2 separate regions of the Homo sapiens genome follow, and region 1 is linked to region 2. The links come from fine-mapping of genetic effects on gene expression. A gene starts in region 2. The other region holds a variant in brackets. All regions are shown on one strand. Distances are between the middles of the regions.

Region 1 (5,377 bases), 72 kb after region 2:
CGCCTCAGCCTCCCAAAGTGCTGGGATTACAGGCGTGAGCCACTGCGCCCGGCCAAGACAGGGTCTTGTTCTTTTGCTGAGGCTGGAGTCCAGTGGTGTGATTTCAGCTCAGTGCAGTGTTGTACTGCTGGACTCAAGCAATCCTCCTGTCTTGGCCTCCCAAGTGGCTAGGACTACAGGTATGCACCACCATGCCTGGCTAGTTTTTTTAAAACAATTTTAATAGAGACTCACTATGAGGCTTTGCTATGTTGCCCAGGCTGGTCTCGAATGCCTGGCCTCAAGCAATCCTCGCACTTTGGCCTCCCAAAGTGCTGGGATTACAGGTGTGAGACACTGTGCCCGGCCGCCTCTCAGGCCTCTTAATGCTTAAGTACCCTAAGGTTCAGTCCTGGGTCCTTTTCCCTTTCTGTCATACTCACTCCCCTATGACTTCATCCAGTCTCAAGACTGTAAATACGGACCTCCCTATGCTGAAGACCTCCAAACAGATATCTGCAGACCAGCCTCCAGAATGCCTACTCAACATCTTCCTTTAGATGATAGATTTTAAGTTACGCATGTTCAAAATGGAATTCCTAACTGTCAAATCTGTTCCATGCTACCTTCTCCATCGAAATTAACAGCAACTCCATACTTCTTTTGCTAGGGGCCAGAAACTTGAGTCATTCTCAACTTCACTTTCTCTCTTATCTTTCATCCAGTTGTCCATGGAAATCTTGCTGGTTTACCTTCAAGATGTATCTATCATCTGCCCATGTCTCACCACCTCCAATGCTGCCACGACGTCTGGACCAGCATGAATGCCTGGCCTCAACCTCCCGGGCTCAAGCCATCTTCCTGCCTCAGCCTCCCAAGCAGATAGGACTACAGTTGCACAAGAGCACTGAGCTGACAATACTTTCTGATAAGTCTTCCTGCTTCCACCCTTACCCCCCATATTCTGTTTTTAATATGCAGTTACAGTTTTAAAATGGAAGTCAGATCATGTGATGCCTCTGCCAACCTAGCAAGGAGTGATTCATTTCGCTCCCAGTAAAGGCCATAGTCTTTCTAACACCCTACACAGCCTGCACAGCGGCTGCCCATCATCTCTGACCCCCTCCTCCTCTTGCCCTCTCACACTGCCTGGCTGTAGTGGGCTCAGTGCTATAACGCACCTCTGCCTGAAGGCCTTTGCTCTAGTCTTCCATCTCTCCAAAAGCTCCTCCTCACAGATCCAAGTGCCCAACCCTTACCCACTTCAAATCTCATCTTCTCAGTGAGGCCTCCTCTGACCAGCCTTTCCTCACCCCCTCACCCCACTCTACTTTTTCTTTTCCCAACACACATACCATCCTATAACATTCTCTGTAATTTACTCGTGGATTGCTTATTGTCTGTCTCCCTCCATTAGAATGTAAGCTCCAAGGCAGGGATCTTTGTCTTTGTTCACTGATGTATCCTATGCCCCTTAAACAGTGCCCAGCACATGGTAGACGCTCAAAAAAAAGTTACTGGATAAGTGACTTTAGTGGACACACTTTTGTTTTGTTTTTGAGATGGAGTCTCGCGCTGTCACCCAGGCTGGAGTGCAGTGGTGCGATCTCGGCTCACTGCAAGCTCCGCCTCCCAGGTTCACACCATTCTCCTGCCTCAGCCTCCCGAGTAGCTGGGACTACAGGCGCCCGCCGCCACGCCCGGCTAATTTTTTTTTGTATTTTTAGTACAGACGGGGTTTCACCGTGTTAGCCAGGGTGGTCTCGATCTCCTGATCTGGTGATCTGCCCGCCTCGGCCTCCCAAAGTGCTGGGATTACAGGCATGAGCCAGCGCGCCCGGCCGTGGACACACTTTTAAAAAATTTTTCTTTTTGTTTTTTCTCTTTTTTTTTTGAGACAAAGGCTTGCTTGCTCTGTCTCCCAGGCTGGAGTGCAGTGGTGTGATCTTGGCTCACTGCAACCTCTGCCTCCCAGGTTCAAGCAATTCTCCTGCAGTAGTTGGGACTATAGGTACCCGCCACCATGCCTGGCTAATTTTTTTTTTTTTTGAGATGGAGTTTTCGCTCTTGTTGCCCAGGCTGGAGTGCAATGGCGCAATCTCAGCTCACCGCAACCTCCGCCTCCCGGGTTCAAGCGATTCTCCTGCCTCAGCCTCCCTAGTAGCTGGGATTACAGGCATGTGCCACCACGCTCGGCTAATTTTGTATTTTTTTTTAGTAGAGATGGAGTTTCTCCATGTTGGTCAGGCTGGTCTCGAACTCCCGACCTCAGATGATCCTCCCGTCTCGGCCTCCCAAAGTGCTGAGATTACAGGCATGAGCCACCATGCCCGGCCTCTGCCTGGCTAATTTTTGTGGTAGAAACAGGGTTTCACTGATGTTGCCCAAGCTGGTCTCCTGAGCTCAAGCAGTCCACCTGCCTCAGCCTCCCAAAGTGCTGGGATTACAGGCGTGAGCCACCGTGCCTGGCCTTTTTATTTTATTTTTTTTAAGACACAGGTGTCCCACTCTTACCCAGGATGAAGTGCAGTGGTGTGATCACAGCTCACTGCAGCCTTCAACTCCTGAGATCAAGCAATCCTCCTGCCTCAGCCTCCCAAGTAGCTGGGACCAAAGACATGCACCACTACACCTGGCTAATTTTTATTTTTATTTTTAATTTTTTGAGACAGAGTCTCACTCTGTCACCCAGGCTGGAGTGCAGTGGCGCAATCTTGGCTCACTGCAACCTCTGCCTCCCGGGTTCAAGTTATTCTCCTGCCCCAGCCTCCTGAGTAGCTGGGACTACAGGCGCCCACCACGCCTAGCTAATTTTTTTGTATTTTTAGTAGAGATGGGGTTTCACCATGTTCGCCAGGTTGGTCTTGATCTCTTGACCTTGTGATCTGCCTGCCTCGGCCTCCCAAAGTGCTGGGATTACAGGCGTGAGCCACCACGCCCGGCCTATTTTTAATTTTTGTTTGTTTGAAATGGAATCTCACTCTGTTACCCAGGCTGGAGTGCAATGGCACAATCTCGGCTCACTGCAACCTCTGCCTCCCGGGTTCAAGCGATTCTCCTGTCTCAGCCTCCCAAGCAGCTGGGATTACGGGCACCTGCCAACACCCCGCTAATTTTTGTATTTTCATTAGAGGCGGGGTTTCACCATATTTGTCAGGCTGGTCTCAAACTCCTGACCTCAGGTGACCCACCTGCCTCAGCCTTCCAAAGTGCTGGGATTACAGGCGTGAGCCACCTCACCCAGCCGGCTAATTTAGATAAAAAAATA[T/G]GTAGCAATGGGGGGTCTTGCTATGTTGCCCAGGCTGGTCTCAAACTTCTGGCTTCATGCAATCCTTCCAAATGAGCCACAACACCCAGCCAGTCACATTTTTTAAACAGTTACATCTTTATTTTAGTATACTAGAAAGTAATACAATAAACATGTCAAACCTGCAAATTCAGTAGTAACAGAGTTCTTTTATAACTTTTAAACAAAGTATCAGGTAAATAATTGTATTTCCTAAGTAACCTGAAGGTGTTACTTCAAACTGAGAAAGCCTGCCCTCCACACAGCAGAGGCAAATTCAAACCCTCCACCATTCTGGAGGGCCTTTACTGGTAAGGGTTGCATTGGAGAACTCCCAAATCTGGCTGTGCATACAACTCACCTAGGAAGCTCGTTAAACTTTAAACAGAGTCCTTTGTTCCATTTTAAGTTCTCGGGAGTTGGGGCCTGGAATGCACATTTTAAACAAATATCTCAGGTGATTCTCCTATACCCAGCCCAGTACTGTGCAAGGCTTAAGGACTGGTGGATTAAATGACCTCTGAGGGCTCTTCTAGCTCAGAACTTCTGCCTCTGTGGTTGAAACTTGATCAACACATCACACACTGCAGCGTTTTTCAAATTGCGGATTAAAATCTACTTACTGGGCTGGGCGTAGTGGCTCATGCCTATAATTCCAGCACCTTGGGAAGCCAAGGCAGGCTCACTTGAGCCCAGTTAGAGGTTACAGTGAGCTGTGAACACACCACTGCACTCCAGCCTGGGTGACAGAACAAGTCCCTGTCACAAAAAACAAGCTCCTTAATAGGTGATATGATTTGGCCCTGTGCCCCACCCAAATCTCATCTCAAATTGTAATCCCCACGTGTGGAGGGAGGGACCTGGTGAGAGGTGACTGGATCATGGGGGTGGTTTCCTCCATGCTGTTCTCGTGATAGAGTTCTCAGAGATCTGATGGTTTAAAACTTCACCCTTTGTGCTCTCTCTCGCCTGCCACCCTGTAAGACATGCCTTGCTTCCCCTTCCACCATAATTTTAAGTTTCCTGATGCCTCCCCAGCCATGCGGAACTATGAGTCAATTAAAATCTCTTTTTCTTAATTACCCAGTCTCAGGTAGTTCTTTATAGCAGTGTGAAAACAGACTAATACAATGGGTTAGAATCAGCATTAGGGGCCGGGCACTGTGGCTCACACCTGTAATCCCAGCACTTTGGGAGGCCAAGGCGGGCAGATCACTTGAGATCAGGAGTTCAAGACCAGACTGGCCAACATGCTGAAAACCCGACTAAAATTACAAAAATTAGCCGGGCGTGGTGATGCACACCTGTAGTCCCAACTAAGGAAACTGAGGCAGGAAAATCGCTTGAACCTGGGAGGCAGAGGTTGCAGTGAGCTGAGATCACACCACTGCATTCCTGCCTGGACAACAAAGCAAGACCTTGTCTAAAAACAAACAAACAAAAAAATAAATAAATAAATAAGAGAGAGAGAGAGATCAGCATTAGGAAAAAAAAGTAAACAACTATACAATAGGACTGCATTACCTGTAGTAAGGTTGTTTCATGAAGCTTTTTCCAGAGGTGAGTATATATGTATGTAGTGATATACAAAATACATTTTTTGCCCTTCCGCTACTCTGAAGGGATTTTTTTTTTTTTACTGTGAACTGTAGTCAAAAACCTTTGAAAGCCACTGCTGTTGAGAAAACAATGATTCTCAACCTTCAGTGTTGTAAGAATGTGAATTCTTGAGCCCTACAAAAACCAAGTTTCTGAGAAGAGTTCAGGAATCTGTGTATATATTATATATGTATTTATATATATTTTTATATATGTATTTATATAATATATATTTATATATTATATATGTATTTATATAATATATATTTATATATTATATATGTATTTATATAATATATATTTATATATTATATATGTATTTATGTAATATATATTTATATATTATATATGTATTTATGTAATATATATTTATATATTACATATGTATTTATGTAATATATATTTATATATTATATATGTATTTATATATTTATATATTATATATTAATATGTATATTATATATTATACTATATATATTTATATTGTATATATTATATATTATATTATTTATA
Region 2 (5,377 bases):
TTGAGATGGAGTCTTGCTCTGTCACCCAGACTGGAGTGCAGTGGCACGATCCTGGCTCACTGCAACCTCTGCCACCTGGGTTCAAGCGATTCTCCTGCCTCAGCCTCCCAAGTAGCTGGGATTACAGGCGTGTGCCACCATGCCCGGCTAATTTTTGTATTTTTAGTAGAGACGGGGTTTCAGCATCTTGGTCAGGCTGGTCTTGAACTCCTAACCAGTCTCGGCATCCCAAAGTGCTGGGATTACAGGTGTGAACCACCATGCTCGGCCTTTAGGATTTGAATTTTTTATTTATTTGTTTTTATTATTACTTTTGAGATGGGGTCTCATTCTGTCATCCAGGCTGGAGTGCAGTGGCGAGATCTCGGCTCGCTGCAACCTCCGCCTCCCAGGTTCAAGCAATTCTCCTGCCTCACCCTCCCTAGTAGCTGGGATTACAGGCACGCACCACCAGGCCCAGCTAATTTTTGTTTTTTTAGTAGAGACGGGGTTTTACCAGGTTGGCCAGGCTGGTCTCGAACCTCAGGTGATCCGCCCGCCTCAGCCTCCCAAAGTGCTGGGATTACAAGTGTAAGCCACTGTGCCCAGCCTATATATCATCTTTTATTGGTTTTGTGAGATAAGCTACTGCACCCGGACTGAATTTTTTAAATGTAAAGTTCTTCTTATATGTTTCTCCAGCACTCAGAAAGCAGTTTTCCCCTTCTTTTAGGAAGGCTGTTCTGGAATAAGGTAAGTTGTCAAAAAGGGTACTAGCTCTGGTGGCAAAAGATTCAGTGTTGCAAGAGGTATACACAACTTTGCTAACTAAATGCCACGCAAAGTCAGGTGGAGCAATTCCATGTCAACAAAACACATAAGATCATTACTGTATGAAATAGCAAGGAAAAATGTTGAAGCTAACCCCTAGAATCCATAAAGATCATATGAGATCTGCAGCTAGTTATTAAGAAAACTGCAGAGTCATCAACAAGTGACATTTACACAATGCTCTCTGAATGAATCATGTCATAGTAAGCACTTTGAAATATGAGACACGCTGTTGGGCCTAAAGATGCTTAATCTAAAAAAGTCATTAATTCAGGAAGAAATATATGTATTCCAATGCAGAATGAGAACAGGACCAAGATATTTTAAAAGGGGAAATATTAAACCCGGTAAGAAGAAAATGATACTATTCTGGAATAAAATGTTACCAGAAAAAGAGAATTAGGAGCTCCTTTGAGGGCCTAAGCCTTTGCCACTTACAGTCTCATCTCAGAGGGGTGTGAGTCATCATCCTCTCCCATTATAATGATGCCTTTGAGCTTGACATTGCCCGTAAATCTGCCAGAATGCAAAAGAGAAGGTTGTCAAACCTGAGTTTGAATACCTGTTTAGTTGTGTGACCCTGGGCAAGACCCTTCCCCTGTATGGGCTTCAGTTTACTCATCTGTCAACTTGTACTAGATAATTTCTAAGATCCTGTCTACCTCTAGCATTCTACAATTCTAAGAAATCTACCTCAATTTCTCAGTTATTGTTCTACAAATACATCTGTTTCCAGTCTGCACCAAGAAAGCTATGATGCTTTCCTCCTCAAACCCACCAAAGTAATTTATCCCATTTCTAGAAGCAAATGTGTGCTCTTGACACCAGTGAATGAATCCATCTGAGGCAACTGGGTACAGCCTATTTAGCCTGAGGTAGGCACCAAGGAGATACTTACGGAATATTAAACAGAAGCTCTTCATCTGCATCACTTTCAACAAACTGGAGGGGATGGGGAGGGGGGAGGAGAAAGCAACAAATATTTGCTGAGAGCCTACAATTTCAGGCATCTCCCACCCTGCTCTACAACTGGGGTGCAATGGGAAGAGTCACTCTCCCTTGGTTTTCCAAGACTTATTAACTTGAAGCTAACCAGTCTTATCCAGTGTCATAACAGCCACAGGCCACCCAACTGGAAGGTTCTTAACAAAAAGCCCATGAATGAATTTCCAGGGTCGAAGAGCCTTCTGAAGTGTGAACTGAAAGGCAGGTGTTTATGTGCATTTTTCTGAGAAGAAGGTCCACTGCTTTCAAACAGATAGCAAAGGGGCCTGCGACCCCACAATGTAAAGAACATTTGCTCTATATGGGAACCACCTTTCATCTCCCTAGGCTCATCTTCACCAGGTAATATGATGAGGCAGCCATTAGCACCAATGGTCCAACGGCCCTCACGACCATCCTCTCTAGCCCACACAGCCCTGGAATAGAGCGTTAGGCTGTGTAGCTTGACAAAACTGTCCCCGTTCCCTCTAGGCCTCAGTTTCCCTATATGCAAAATGGGGAGACAACGCTGCTCGCCTCCCAAAGAGCTGGCAGGAGACAGGCACGGAAAAGCGCTTGGCAACCAGGCTGTCGTTATTCTTAACATCAGAAATGAGTAGACCGACGGCCCGAGGCCCCACACGCACCCTGCCCCGCCCGCCCCAAGCCCCAGGCGGCCCACCTTGGAGCGGTCGGTCCGCTCCTCCCACGGCTTGAAGACGCCGCGGCCGCTGCCCTCGCGGCTCTCGTTAAGGCATTGCAGCCGCTCCAGGTCGATGCGCAGGTACAGGCCGTAGGCCAGGCCGCGCTGCTCGGGCGGCTCCTCCCGTTCGGCGGCGCAGCGGCAGCCACCCCCGCCGTGGCTGTGACCGTGCGACATGGCAACGCCGCCACCTGCGCGTCCTCTCGGCCCCACCGCCGCGCTCGCTCGGCTCGGCTCGCCTCAGACCAGCTCCGCGCCGTTCAGCTCCGGCAACTAAGCGCGCCGCGCCTGCCGCGTCGTAAAAAGCGCCGCTGCGCGGCGCATGCGCGTGGGGAGAAGGCGGGGGGGCGGGGGGGGTGGGGTCGAGCGGAACTGACGTAGGACGCGCGCCTCCCAGGTGCCAGAGTTCGTATATGACTCCAGTCCTGGCGCTGGATGCTGCTGCTGTTCCAGCTTCCTAGGTGTGGAAACTGAAGGACCAAGAGATTAAACAGGTGTGCTGAGTAAACTCACAGGCTGAGATTCGAATTATCCTCCCCCGACGAGGATGGAGCCTTCGCTGTCTTCCTTGATCGCCACGTTTCTTTGCGAGCCGATGAAGGAAAGCGTGAGGAATGATAAGGCCCTGGAGACTGGAGAACGCGAGCTTATCGCTGTCTCACATGCGCACGGCTTAGACGTTGAGAGCTCACAGGCCCACTTGCATAACCACTTTCTTGATAGCGGGGTTACAGCTTGAGAGCATGGGGCTTTGTGCACGGCCAGACCTAAAGACTACTCCTGGGTCTGCTACTGGCCATTGTGACACCTTAAGTCATTTCCCCTATTCTGAGACTCCGTTTCCCCGTCTGTAAGGTGGAAAGAATAGTATCTGTTTCATAGGATCACAGTGAGTATTAAATGAAATAATGCAATTAAAGAACTCAGCAGGCCGGGCGCGGTGGCTCACGCCTGTAATCCCAGCACTTTGGGAGGCCGAGGCGGGCGGATCACGAGGTCAAAAGATCGAGACCATCCTAGCCAACATGATGAAACCCCGTCTCTACTAAAAATACAAAAATTAGCTAGGCGTGGTGGCGCGAGCCTGTAGTCCCAGCTACTCGGGAGGCTGAAGCAGGAGAATCGCTTGAACCCGGGAGGCAGAGGTTGCAGTGAGCCGACATCGCGCCACTGCACTCCAGCCTGGCGACAGAGCAAGACTCTGTCTCAAAAAGAAAAAAAAAGAAAAAACTCAGCAAATGGCTGACACATGATGGGCATTCAGTAGCCGATGGTTATTACGGTCAAATCCAACCACAGCAACTTACTAGCTGCGTGGCCTTGGGCAAGTGACTTGATCTTCTGAGACTCAGTTTACCCCCTGTGAAGTGAAGGGATTGGACTAGATGATCTCTGCGTTTCCTCCCCCATGTGATATTTCAAAGTACTTTTTTTCGAACAGCTGGTTGTGGCCTGTCAATAGGTTTTAAAATCCGTTTATAGAGAATTGTGATCAACATTTAAAAAAAAAATAGAATACAAAAAAAAAAAAACCCAGAATGTATCACACATTTCAAGTCTCAATTGATGAAACTTTTGTTTCAGTTTTGAGTTTGTATTCAGACACAATATGATGTGTTTTTCATATTGTGGGTTGAGATCAAAATAATTAAAAGTCACTGTTTAGAGGTGAAATAATCTTGTTTTCAGGATAGAATGTTTTCCTACTCCCTGGTGGGGAAAAGACAGGATACAGAAAGAGAGTTATGGGATACCCTGGCTACCCTCTTCCCTTCACATCTGGCTCTGGAGTGCTCAGTGGGGCTGGTGAAGTATAGACCAAAATATCCATTTTTTCAAGTTCCATTCAGAAATATTTTCTGGGCCACATGCAGTGCCTCATGCCTGTAATCTCAGCACTTTTGGGAGGCCAAGGTGGGAGGATCACTTGAGCCCAGGAGTTTGAGACTAGCCTGGGCAACATAGGGAGACCCCATCTTTACAAAAATAATTAAAAATATTAGCCCAGCATGGTGGCTCATGCCTGTGGTCCCAGCTATTTGGGAGGCTGAAGTGGAAGGATCTCCTGAGCCTGGGAGGGTGAGGCTGTAGTGAGCTGTAATCATACCACTGCACTCCAACCTGGGTGTCAGAGCAAGACTGTCTCAAAAAAATAAAAACAAGAAAAATATTTTGATGTCCTATTTTAGTTACTTGTGCAATAAGCAAGCTTGGTTCTGTTTCAAAATAGCTCAGTGCCGTGAATTATTCCTGCTTTTAGGTCACAGTTTCAGGTAAGGGACCTGGAATGTGGCAAACAGTAAATGTTTACTTGACTGATATACTTGGTAGCCTTTCTTTGGTAAGAGTGTCCTTTTGAAGAACCAACTCAGGCCTTACCCCGGAGATCTACTCATTTTGGCTTTTTCCTGTTGCCTTCATTAATGATTTATTTGAGCACTGTGTGCTAAGCACATTATGTAGTTCATCTCAATTAATTGTCACATGAACTTTAAGAGCTAGGTACAGCCAGGTGTGGTGGCTCACACCTGTAACACTTTGGGAGGCCGAGGCGGGTAGATCACTTGAGGTCAGGAGTTTGAGACCAGCCTGGCCAGCATGGTGAAACCCCGTCTCTACTAAAAATAGAAAAATTAGCCAGGCATCGTAGCGTGTGCCTGTAATCCCAGCTACTCGGGAGGCTGAGGCAGGAGAATCGCTTGAACCCAGGAGGCAGAGGTTGCAGTGAGCCGAGATTGTGCCACTGCACTCCAGCCTGAGCGACAGAGCGAGACTCCATCTCAAAAAAAAAAAAAAGAGAGCTAGGTGCTATTACCTACTGTTATCTCCAATTTGAAGATGAGGAAAACTGAGGCTGAAAGAGGCAAACTAACTTGTCTG

What was found. PIP is the estimated chance that this variant, and not a neighbour inherited with it, causes the effect. A credible set is the group of variants that fine-mapping cannot tell apart.
Region 1: its variant is the best candidate, but not a certain one, in a credible set for the expression of PITHD1 in whole blood (TOPMed, PIP 0.59).

The regions. Positions count from the first base shown.
Region 1 is chr1:23,703,589-23,708,965 of GRCh38, reverse strand. No RefSeq gene overlaps it. Among named protein-coding and RNA genes, the nearest start is that of RPL11, 14 kb to the right of the region's middle. The variant T/G (reference allele first, on the strand shown) is at 3,248.
Region 2 is chr1:23,775,813-23,781,189 of GRCh38, reverse strand. It overlaps PITHD1 (PITH domain containing 1), which reads right to left and starts at 2,772. Exons shown (of 6, transcript NM_020362.5): 1 at 2,477-2,772; 2 at 1,709-1,752; 3 at 1,249-1,326. The coding sequence starts at 2,674. ELOA-AS1 (ELOA antisense RNA 1) reads left to right here and starts at 2,893. Exons shown (of 4, transcript NR_038280.1): 1 at 2,893-2,991. RefSeq lists enhancers at 643-1,842, 3,096-4,048 and silencers at 2,393-2,442, 2,533-2,842.